Regions from separate parts of the Homo sapiens genome. Here region 1 is linked to region 2. The links come from fine-mapping of genetic effects on gene expression. Tissue or cell type: esophagus mucosa. Region 2 holds a variant in brackets; the other region holds the start of a gene. All regions are shown on one strand. Distances are between the middles of the regions.

Region 1 (5,177 bases), 54 kb before region 2:
TAGTGTAGACCTTTCTGGTATAACAGAGATGATCCCCAGTTTGTTCATTTGTTGAAGGATGCCTCTGGGAAACTTTAAGCCAAGGAGAGGGTTAATTATATCAAATACTACAAAGTGGCAAGAAATCTATCTTAATTTGTTATAAAGTCAGTGTAGTATCCACAATTTAAAATTTTAAGAAGGCAATCACGAATGGAAGTTATAGGTTGAGACAGACATTCAGTAAAGAATTCAAATATTCTTCAAGCAGTGCCGGAAGAAACTGTGTGTATGCCGGATTGGAACACTCGATTTTAAAAAACTTATTTCAGCCAGATCAATTTGCAAACATGCGCATGCACGCACACACACAGACACACACACACTTGCCTTTGGGGTAAAAGGAAACTTGAGTTAGTCGTTATCAAAAGATATCATTTACCTTTCTTTTTTTAAATCATTAATTTTTTAAACAGCCTTGATGTGTTTTTATAAATTGTAGACTGTGAATTTTTGTGCTGTTTGAAATCTAAGAGAGAGTTGCCTTTCTTTGTATTCTTGGAGCAAAGTAGAAAGTGAACCCATGACTAGAAAGATAATATCAAGTAGGATATTGTAAACACACCTCAGGGAGATAACATGGGGTGGAGGCAGACAAACAGGCCAATCCGGGGGAGGAATGGAGTTAAGGAAAGCTCTACAATGAGGCAGATTTTTTAATACCCACTCCTTCCAAGTCCTTCAGCTCAAGCTGCAGCCAAATATTTGCATAAAGAGCTGGTAAAGGATTCCAGCTTCCTGGTTCATGACATTACAGCATGGATCGTTTTCAAAATTAATACTGCCTCCTGTTTCAGCAGTGGCTGCCTGCACAGCTCTCCCTGTGGCTCAGAGTATGGGAGTGAGTATGCCCTGTAACCCAAAAGAGGTGTGGTGAGCTCGGCTTCCCAGCACAGAATCACAGAGCAATACGGGTACCTTTAAACTTTAAAGCCACACCTGAAATTTAAAAAAAAAAAAAAAATCCTAAATTACTCAGTATAATTATTAATTCAACTGAAAAATGCAGGCTGCTTTACTTTGAATAGTTAAAAAGAGCAGTCTCATAAACTTTTAAGTATTTAAATACAGTAGTTTAAATAAAAGCAACTTTTATAGATAGTAGTACAAAACATACAAAGTACTGGAATAATTCCCGACCATTAACTAGAATGAAAGTAGGTTCCAACTCACCAACCACAGCTTTAAGAAAATATTTTCTATTTTAATATTTCATGTATACTAAGAACATGTGAATATTTTTAGCTACTCAGAATTAACAAAATTAAGAATTGTGTTCTTTGGGGAAACGACTCCCTAAGGCTAAGTAGCCAGATGGTATATGAAATTTTTGAGAAAAATAATTGACTAAGCCATAGATAGTTGAGATTAAATAAATGTTAGTCCTTAATAATTTTAAATCGAATAGTTTAATAGGAAGCCTTTTGCTGCATTTTCTCAAACTGTTACATTTTTACCACATAAAATTATTTACATTAATTTTTTACTAAAAATTAATCACTTTTAAAATTTAAGTAGAAGAATCTGATATTAGGAAAAAAACTCCCCAAGCAAGCAAACATAAATATTGGATCTAGATAAAACATAATATTGGTTGTATTTAAGAAGTCTGTTTTATGATTCGATTTCAGGTTTTCATTGTTCCAATGCAATTTTCCAGATTGAATCTTAAAAGGATTATAAACGTCAAAAGGCATTTTAAATTCTACACGGACTTAATACACCTACCGCAATTCTATGCACCTGTCTTTCAAATTCTATAAAATATTTGTTGACACTTTCCCTTTCACTTGTTTTTTACAATATATTTTGTACAAAAATTTGTCAAACATTGAAAAAAAAAAAGAAAGCAACTTTTTCTGAGAAGGAAGAATCTGGCTTACCTTATAGCAGAAAGAAACATAGTCCTCATCAAAATGTCTTAGCTTTCCCTTCAGAGCATTTCTTTCAGCCTGCTTCACGGTGATATTCTTGCTTTGACAGCGGTCCGGAGGCAGCAGTGTCCACCTTTCAGACCCAGTTGCACCATCTTCTGCAGGTCAGTACAGCCAGCATTAACAGTTCCCTCAAACACTCTTTCAAAAGTCCATCTCAAAAGTCTTTCAGTCTTGATTCAGGGGTTAAGATAGGCACCACCATTTAATTGGAATCCAACCAATCAGAAGGTGAAAAAGGCATAGTCACTCCACATGCAAGCCCAGCAAGAAAACAAGCATAAATGTTGTCTTCATTTCTGAATTCTCTACTCTCTGCTATATTGTCTCAAGAGTTTGTTCTTCACATTTATTCCAGTTCCTCATCGCCAAGTAACTAAACTGAACTACAAAATCAGAATTGTTCTCAGGAACTTATCTTTTTTTAGTGCACTGTTAGATGGAATACAGAACATCCCAAGACACTCAAATAATGCCTTTGCTCTGTTCCTTTAGTTTCCAGCCGACAGGGGCTTCCCTCCCCTTCTCTGTTCCCAGAAAGCAGTTCAAACAAGTGTAGGTTTTCTCAGCCCAATAAGAATAACTCGATTACATAAACACTCCTACCTCTGCTACTCAACAGCTAAGAGTTTAAGGAGGTCGTATATAAGGAAACCTCTGCCTATGGCCTCTCCCCACTAAATGTGTCACCGTAGCTTCACCTTAAAGGAACTTGAGACCTCAAGAAGAACACAGTGTCCTTTAGTCCCTTTGATGAGCACACTCTAATCCTCTCTTCTTCCAGCATTTACAGATAATTATCACAAATTGGGCCTATTAATAATAAAATGGAAAAGGAGTAATGTTTACTGATTATCTTTGTTTGATGTTTAACAACTTACTTTGATCACATCATGATGTTAACATGTTCACTGAGAAAACATTTTTGCTTTTTGTACTTCCGAGCCAATAGTGTTAATTGGTACTCTATGTTCCTGGTTTCCATGATTATCATTTGCATTCTCATTTAAATCACTTCTCAAAATTCTCTCCTCCAAACTTAAGTTACTGAGTAAGAGTGAAAAGTTCAAAAAAGCAATCACCATAAGTCAAAAGAATTATTTCCCGTAGCATCAGAAGTTTTCTCAAAGCCTCAACAACTTTGTCAGTTACTTCTGAGAGGTTTACGTGAACTGCCGGTAGGGGCTGGATGTCCATGGTTTTACAGCCCAAGAAAGGGGAAGTTTGAGCCATTATTTGACTGTGACACTTGGACACAAATTGGGTCACCATCCTTTTATTTTTGCCCTAACCAGTTTTACAGCCAGTTTCCACATTATTAACCATGTTCATTTCCCTGGAGCTTGAATTAGCTAGGACAACTAAAGAGTCAAAATTGCATTCCCGTTTACTTTTCTGGATTTGTTAAGCCCCCTTTCCCCCTAGACATAGTAAATATTCAGAGTATAGATCTCCATTCAAATCTGTGTTTTGCAATTTTTATGCAAAAACCTGCCTTTTTCCTTTCTCCTCTAGGACTGTATTTTGAGCCTGAACCAATTTCTTCCACGCCCAATTATTTGCAACGGGGAGAATTTTCCAGTTGTGTTTCATGTGAAGAAAACTCAAGCTGCCTCGACCAGATCTTTGATTCCTACCTTCAGACAGAGATGCACCCGGAGCCTTTGCTCAATTCCACACAAAGTGCTCCACACCATTTCCCAGACAGCTTCCAGGCCACCCCTTTCTGCTTTAACCAGAGCCTGGTAATTTTTCTCAGTTCTTTATATACCTGATTGTGTCTAACTATGGGGTAATAGTGCTTTGTGAGTTTGCACCATCCCGTGGGAAATCATACAAAAACTATCAGCAAGGAAATCATCCAAGGAAACAAGCAGAGAAGAATTTAAAAGTCAATGTATAGAAGTAGCCACACACTGCAGGGCATAAACCTTTGGATACACACGTAATTTAGATTTCCCAAGATTTAGATTTTTCGGCCACCAAGTAAGTTGGTGGGTAGCAATAAAAAGAGGTTCCTGGCAATATTCATTTAATGTTTTTTAAACTGTAAAGTCAAGAGACCTACTAATTGGAAGTCAGTGGTTTAAACAATGGCTCTTGGATTTTTTGATGGAATTTTGAGTTCTTGGAAATGGAATTAAGGCTGTGTATATATGGTAACAAACTTCATTTCATTAGGGGGAGGTTTTGCTTTGTTTTGTCATTGAACTGGCTCTACTAACTGATAGTTTGAGTCTGCTATAAGCACAATAACTCATTTGGGTCTGAGATGGTTAGTAAAAATGAAGCCGTAATCTTTGAAAAAAATTAAATTGGTTGTTCTCGGTGGATCTCAAATGTTTGAAAATGTGTTATCCTTCAAAATGAAGTAAGGTTTCTATTAGTGGAAACTAGTTATTTCAGTTGTCTTTTAGAGACTCACAGGTTTGTTTTGTAAACCTTAAATTGTAAAGTTTTCTTTTTTAAGGAATGTAAATACTTTTTGCCTTTGGATTGTCAAAAGTCTGTGTGGGCATCAGACTAAATTTTAGAGCGGATGGGAAATTAACTCTGCAGAATATGCACATTGTCACGGGGAAAATATGGGGCCCCAGTGACCCAGTTCCTTCCCAGCCTCCAAGTTAGGTTTTCTCAGTAACAATTGTAGACTTGCTTAAGAGAAAACAGACAGTAGCTCTCACTCCAGGGAACAAGACTTTAGTGGCGAGACAGGTAGTGACACATCTTGGCATATGCCAGGGATACTCCAAGATCCTTGAAGATCCAAGTTATGCCTTTGCATGATCACCTGATTCTTCATGGTGAGGGTGTGGAGAAACATCCAGGGTGCCACCTACAGCTTAGATTGTGGCATACAGCAGGATTTGATATGCAGGTGACTTGAAGCACAATGGGATTTTGTGGTTTCAGAACGAGCACCCTCTAAAGTAGGATTATAACAAAGGAAGCCAGTGAAGCAAGGCAATTTATTGTTTGGAAAGAAATAGGTAACTATAGATTGTGGTGTCATGAAATCATGTAGTCAGCAAATAAAATTACTTCTGCAGACTTGGGTTGGGTGTTGTTTCGTTTGATTTGGTTTTTTACCCCTCATTTTCTCACTCTGCATTGGTAAACCCACACTGTTCAGTTCTTTGATCCTGTCTAAGTTATTAAGCTCTTTGTTTCTTGGTTGTCATTTCTCTAGATCCCAGGATCACC
Region 2 (5,177 bases):
AGGAAATGAGAATCAGAGCAGGCCTCCATGGAGACCAAGGCGAGCTCTGATGACCTGATTATCTTGAGAATCAATAGCAAGGAAGATCAGGATCGAGAAGTCAGCTCTGGTTATAAAAGGGTGCACTCAGCATGGGCGGGTGCAGTCCTGCCTTTGTGTGACATACCGTGACATTGGTGATGAGTGGCGGAGAGGCATAGGTCAACACTGAGGAGGGCCCCACCACCGTGTAGCTGGGGCACACGGGCTGCACATACATGTCAGCTGAGTAGGGGCAGCTGACAGCTTCATGGGGCACATACTCGGTGTAAGGTGTCCATGGGGCCAGGGGCTGCAGGGTGGCCGGGGTGGGCTGGGAGAGCCAGCCGGCACACAGGGCAGCCTCCTCTGTCACTGCAGACACAGAACCTTCCATGTCCAGGCAGGAAGGACCTGTGGGAAGAAGGAAATTACAGAACTTCAGATGCCACCCAGATGAGAGGCCTGGGGGCCACCAGGGCTACGGGGCACTCTTACCCACTGTGGTGTAGGTCGCCAGGGGCTGATGGGGCAGCACCACCTAGAGGGGAGAGGAGAAGACCAGGGTCAATGTTTAGCCCTCGTCAACCGGCCCTGTGCAGAGAACTTGCCCAGAGGGCCTCAGGGCAGGAGAATAGAAGATAGGAATCTCTCTGGTTAGAACAAAACATCCCACCCCGTATCCCAACCATCACCACCTACACTTGAGAGATTTGCGTTTCTATTTAGCAGGAAGTCTGTGCGCTCAGGGAGCTGGTGTCTTCTTCTTCTCAGGGGGGGCCCCCAACTCACACCAGGGTATGCAAGTCATTCGCTCACTCAGGCCTTGACAGTAGCTGTGTTCGGTGGGCCAGCTGAGCCGGCCCTGATCCCTCATCCCAGTTGCTCCACCCTAGCTCTATCCCTGGCAGCCTCCACCAAGGGACCTGCGCTCCTTCCTGCCTGATCCTTTTGGTCACCTCCCAAGCCATCTGCCTGCGCGCACACACATTCTCACACAAACACACACACTCTCTCACACACGTACTCTCTCACACACTCTCACACTCTCACACTCACACTCTCACACACTCACACACTCTCTCACACACACTCCCTCACACACATACTCTCTCACACACACGCTCACACTCTCACACTCACTCTCACACACACACACTCTCTCACACACATACATTCTCACACACTGACACATACACATTCTCTCTCACACTATCACACACTCACACACGCCATCACACACAAACACATACACACTCACATGCATACACTCACACACTCACACTCCCTCACACACACATACACTCTCACACACTGACGCAGATACACATTCTCTCTCACACTATCACACTCTCACACACTCTATCACACACAAACACATACACACACGCATACACATACTCACACACACATACACTCTCACACTATCCCTGACACACACATTCTCTTTCACACACACACACTCACACTCTCACACACACAAACTCTCACCGCCGTAGGTGCAGGTGCTGCCCCACTGCTGGCGTGGCCTCGCTTCCTCCTCAGCAGTTCCTTCACTGGCTCCTTCACACGGACGCCCTGGTATGGCCGGGCCGGGGCTGGGGCTTGCTCCGGAGCTGTGGCTGTGAAAAGCAATGTCCCTGGAGCCCATGGTCCTTCTCAGACGAGCCCCCACCCCAAAGTGCTCATTTCCTCATGGATCTGCCTGCTCCCCTAAGTCGTGCTTGAACACGGAGAACCACGTGACACTTCCTAGAATGCCTCTCCAGTATTGTCACTCCTCCTACTCCCAAACCTTCTGTGGGTCCCCTGCACCCAGACAACGAAGGCCCAGCTCCTTGTCCTAGAATTGGACAGTCTTCAGAATGAGATCCGAACCCATTTTTCTCACCACTTTGCACACTCCCTACTACACAAACCCTGTCTCCAACCAGAAGGTCTGTCTGTGTTCTCTACGTGTTCCTGCGTGTCTCACCTCCTCATCTGTGGTTGAGGTTTTCCGTGGTCAGAATTCCCTCTCACTTCTTCCAACCTCTTGATTCTTGCTGACACAAGACAAATGCAACCCTCCTGCCTGACCCCTGCAGCCTGAGTAATTTCCACATTCTACAGCTTCTCAAACATTTCCAGATCTGATTAGTATTCATCATAGGTGGCAGTAGAGGACAGCCATAAGAGCAGGGACTCTGAGCCAGATAGCACAGGCCTCAAATCCTGCCCCTGCCACCACCTTCCTGTGTGATCCTGGGCAAGTTACTAAACCTCTCTGTGCCTCTTAATCTTCAGTTTCTTTATCAAAGGAATATTGAGAGAAGTCACTTGATGTGGGAAATTGGTAGAACAGTATATGCCTCAAATAAATTCAGGTACAGGGTAGGCATTCAAAAAAATTCAGTCTATTATGTAATAGTTATTCTTTTTGATGGAAGTGTCTTATACCCACAACTAGATTATAAACGTCTCAAGGTGAGTTATTGTACCTTATTTCTCTATGTCTTCCCAGTGGC[A/G]TGCCCATGCGTTTTAAGCTCAGTTGATACTTATTGATTAATCGATTGGGTGATTCTTTAAGACATGCTGCCATTTGTCTTCCCTTCACCTCTCCTACACCTTTAGGATTGAGGCAAGTGGCTCCCAGGTTCTCAGTGACTTTCAGGGCATGGGACAATTACCCAAGGGTGATCCTTGTACCCTGGGGCCAGACAGTGTCCACCTGCTGCTGAGGGAAGGTTTCCTTCCCCTCTTGCCATCAAAGCCAGGAAACCAAAGCATTGACCCAAATAAGAGCCAGTGCATAGGGCCCTTCCTGGCCTGGGAGAGCAACTGAAAAGCAGCCGTGGCTGGGAAGCAACAAGCTGCCCACCTAGACAGCCTGTGGCCTAGGGATCCTGGGCTCTCAGAGAGCAGGCCTGGGTCAGCCAAGAAACACTAGACCTTAGGACTTCCACAGGGAGCCCATTATTATCCACCGATAAGGGCCCCAGGGACCTGGGCTCTGAATCAAAGTCCCGGAAGCCTAGGTATCTGTTAAACCCGGATCTGCAGCACTGCCCTGGTTGAACTTTGCTCAGTAAATACCCAGCTGATAAGGTCCCATGCCTGACTCGGCACCAGACCTCCCTCCAGGCTCCAGCCACGAGCAAGGCCTGGCCTTGAAGCCCAGAAGGCAGAGAGAAGCTTGGGCAGAGGCAACAGGAAGTGGGAAATGAGTCCCAGGGGCAGATGTTGGGGGTCAGGAATCCCAGTATCTCAGGTGGACTTTAGACCCATCCTCCAAGGTCCCTCAGCTGGCCAGGTAGCAAATCAACCAGGAAATGATGCAATATACAGGTACAGGTCCTGCTCCAGGAAAGTCTGATTCTAGGGGGCTGATATAGGCCTAGGAATCTGTATGTATAAAAATCTCTCTTGGGAGGCTGAGGTGAGTGGATCACAAGGTCAGGAGATTAAGACCATCCTGACCAACATGGTGAAAGCCCATATTTACTGAAATACAAAAAATTAGCCAGATGTGGTGGCAGGCACCTGTAATCCCAGTTACTTGGGAGGCTGACTCAGGGGAATGGCTTGAACCTGGGAGGTGGAGGTTGCAGTGAGCTGAGATCACACCATTGCACTCCAGCCTGGCAACAGAGAGAGACTCTGTCTCAAAAAAAAAAAAAAAAAATCTGTCCAGTATTTCTGAAAATATACTGGGATTACAACTGCTGATAATCCATTCCTAATTTAACATAAGAATCTCCCGATAACATCCCAATAGGAGATTCATTATCCTTATTTTAACTTCCCCTGTCTGAACAAGAGATCTCTACTGGTATTCATTCATTTTTTCAAATATTTCTAGTGCCTAGGAGTACAGCACTGCACAGGACCCATGGAGCCCCCGCCCACGTGGATCTTGCAGTCTAACGGGGAAGACAAGCAACAAAAGTTACCAGCAGATGAATGTGTCACAACTTGTGAAATTCAGGCTGCTATAGGAGTGTCTAGCAGGGGAACCAGCCTGGTTCTGTGCCCCGGGGCCACCTGTGCGCCTCCACCTTTGCTCTGAACACCAATGACAGTAGACTTGAGAACCACACATACCTGTATTCAAATCTGGGCTGTCACTTACTGGTGGAAAGTTCTTAGATTTATTTAATGTCTCTGGGCTTCAATTTCCTCATTTGTAAAACGGGAATAATAATTCTTCTCTCACACAGTGGTTGTGAGGATTAACCAAAATAATACATGGGGAGCTCCAAAGGCCATGTCTGGCATAGGGTAGATGCTCAATACATGTGGTTTTAATTATCTTCCTTCTGGCCATTTCCACCTTCCTTTCGGGGGGATATTATCATGTCAGACAGCTCTTCCTCCTACTGAGGCTAACTTATGGTAACACATGCCATATTTCCCTCCATTACCTTCTAATGAAACTCACATTTCTTAGTCCATTTACAGCTGTCTCATCTATAAAGTGAAGATCATAATGGTATGTATGTTGTAGGGTAATTTAAGATTTGCATGTGAAGTGCTTGGAATAGAGTTTGGCACAGAGCATTTAATACATGTGAGCTCCGATTATCATGAGTATTAGTAGTAATATTCCCTTCCGAAATCTGAGGACAGATACCAGGTGTCCCCCTAGGTCTGAAGGGACTTCTCATTCCTTCAGCTATTTCTAAATGACATGGTTTTAGTCTCCCCACCTTCCTTCTGGGTGAGTCACTCTTGCACAAGTTCCATTTGCCACTTTCCCTACTGCTGGGTGGTGCCCAGCGATGACCACAGGCCCCAGGTACAATCTGACGTGTCAGCGAACAGGGCACCTGCCCTGCCACACTCAACTCACTCTTTCTCAGGGTCACCCCATGGCCACGTCAGCATTTTTGGTTTTAATCTTTATGAGTACATAGTCAGTGTATATATTTATGGGGTACACAAGATATTTGGATACGGGCATGCAATGCACACTCATCACATCAGGGTAAATAAAGCACCCATCCCCTCAAGCATTTGTCACCTCTTTGTGTTATAAACAATCCAATTATACTTTTAGTTATTTTTAAGTGTACCATAAATTATTGTTGACTATAGTCACCCTGTTGTGCTGTCAAATACTGGATCATATTCATTCTATCTAACTATATTTTTGTACCCATAAGTCATCCCCACTCCCA

The links. PIP is the estimated chance that this variant, and not a neighbour inherited with it, causes the effect.
Region 1: it holds the start of COLCA1, and the variant in region 2 is the best candidate, but not a certain one, in a credible set for the expression of COLCA1 in esophagus mucosa (GTEx, PIP 0.61).

The regions. Positions count from the first base shown.
Region 1 is chr11:111,302,906-111,308,082 of GRCh38, forward strand. COLCA1 (colorectal cancer associated 1) reads right to left here and starts at 2,143. Exons shown (of 2, transcript NR_169237.1): 1 at 1,923-2,143. POU2AF3 (POU class 2 homeobox associating factor 3) reads left to right here. Exons shown (of 5, transcript NM_001271458.2): 3 at 2,023-2,077; 4 at 3,489-3,718; 5 at 5,164-5,177.
Region 2 is chr11:111,357,279-111,362,455 of GRCh38, forward strand. It overlaps POU2AF1 (POU class 2 homeobox associating factor 1), which reads right to left. Exons shown (of 5, transcript NM_006235.3): 2 at 1,510-1,640; 3 at 517-559; 4 at 167-432. Among named protein-coding and RNA genes, the nearest start is that of MIR4491, 12 kb to the left of the region's middle. RefSeq lists enhancers at 399-1,245, 2,006-2,300. The variant A/G (reference allele first, on the strand shown) is at 2,526.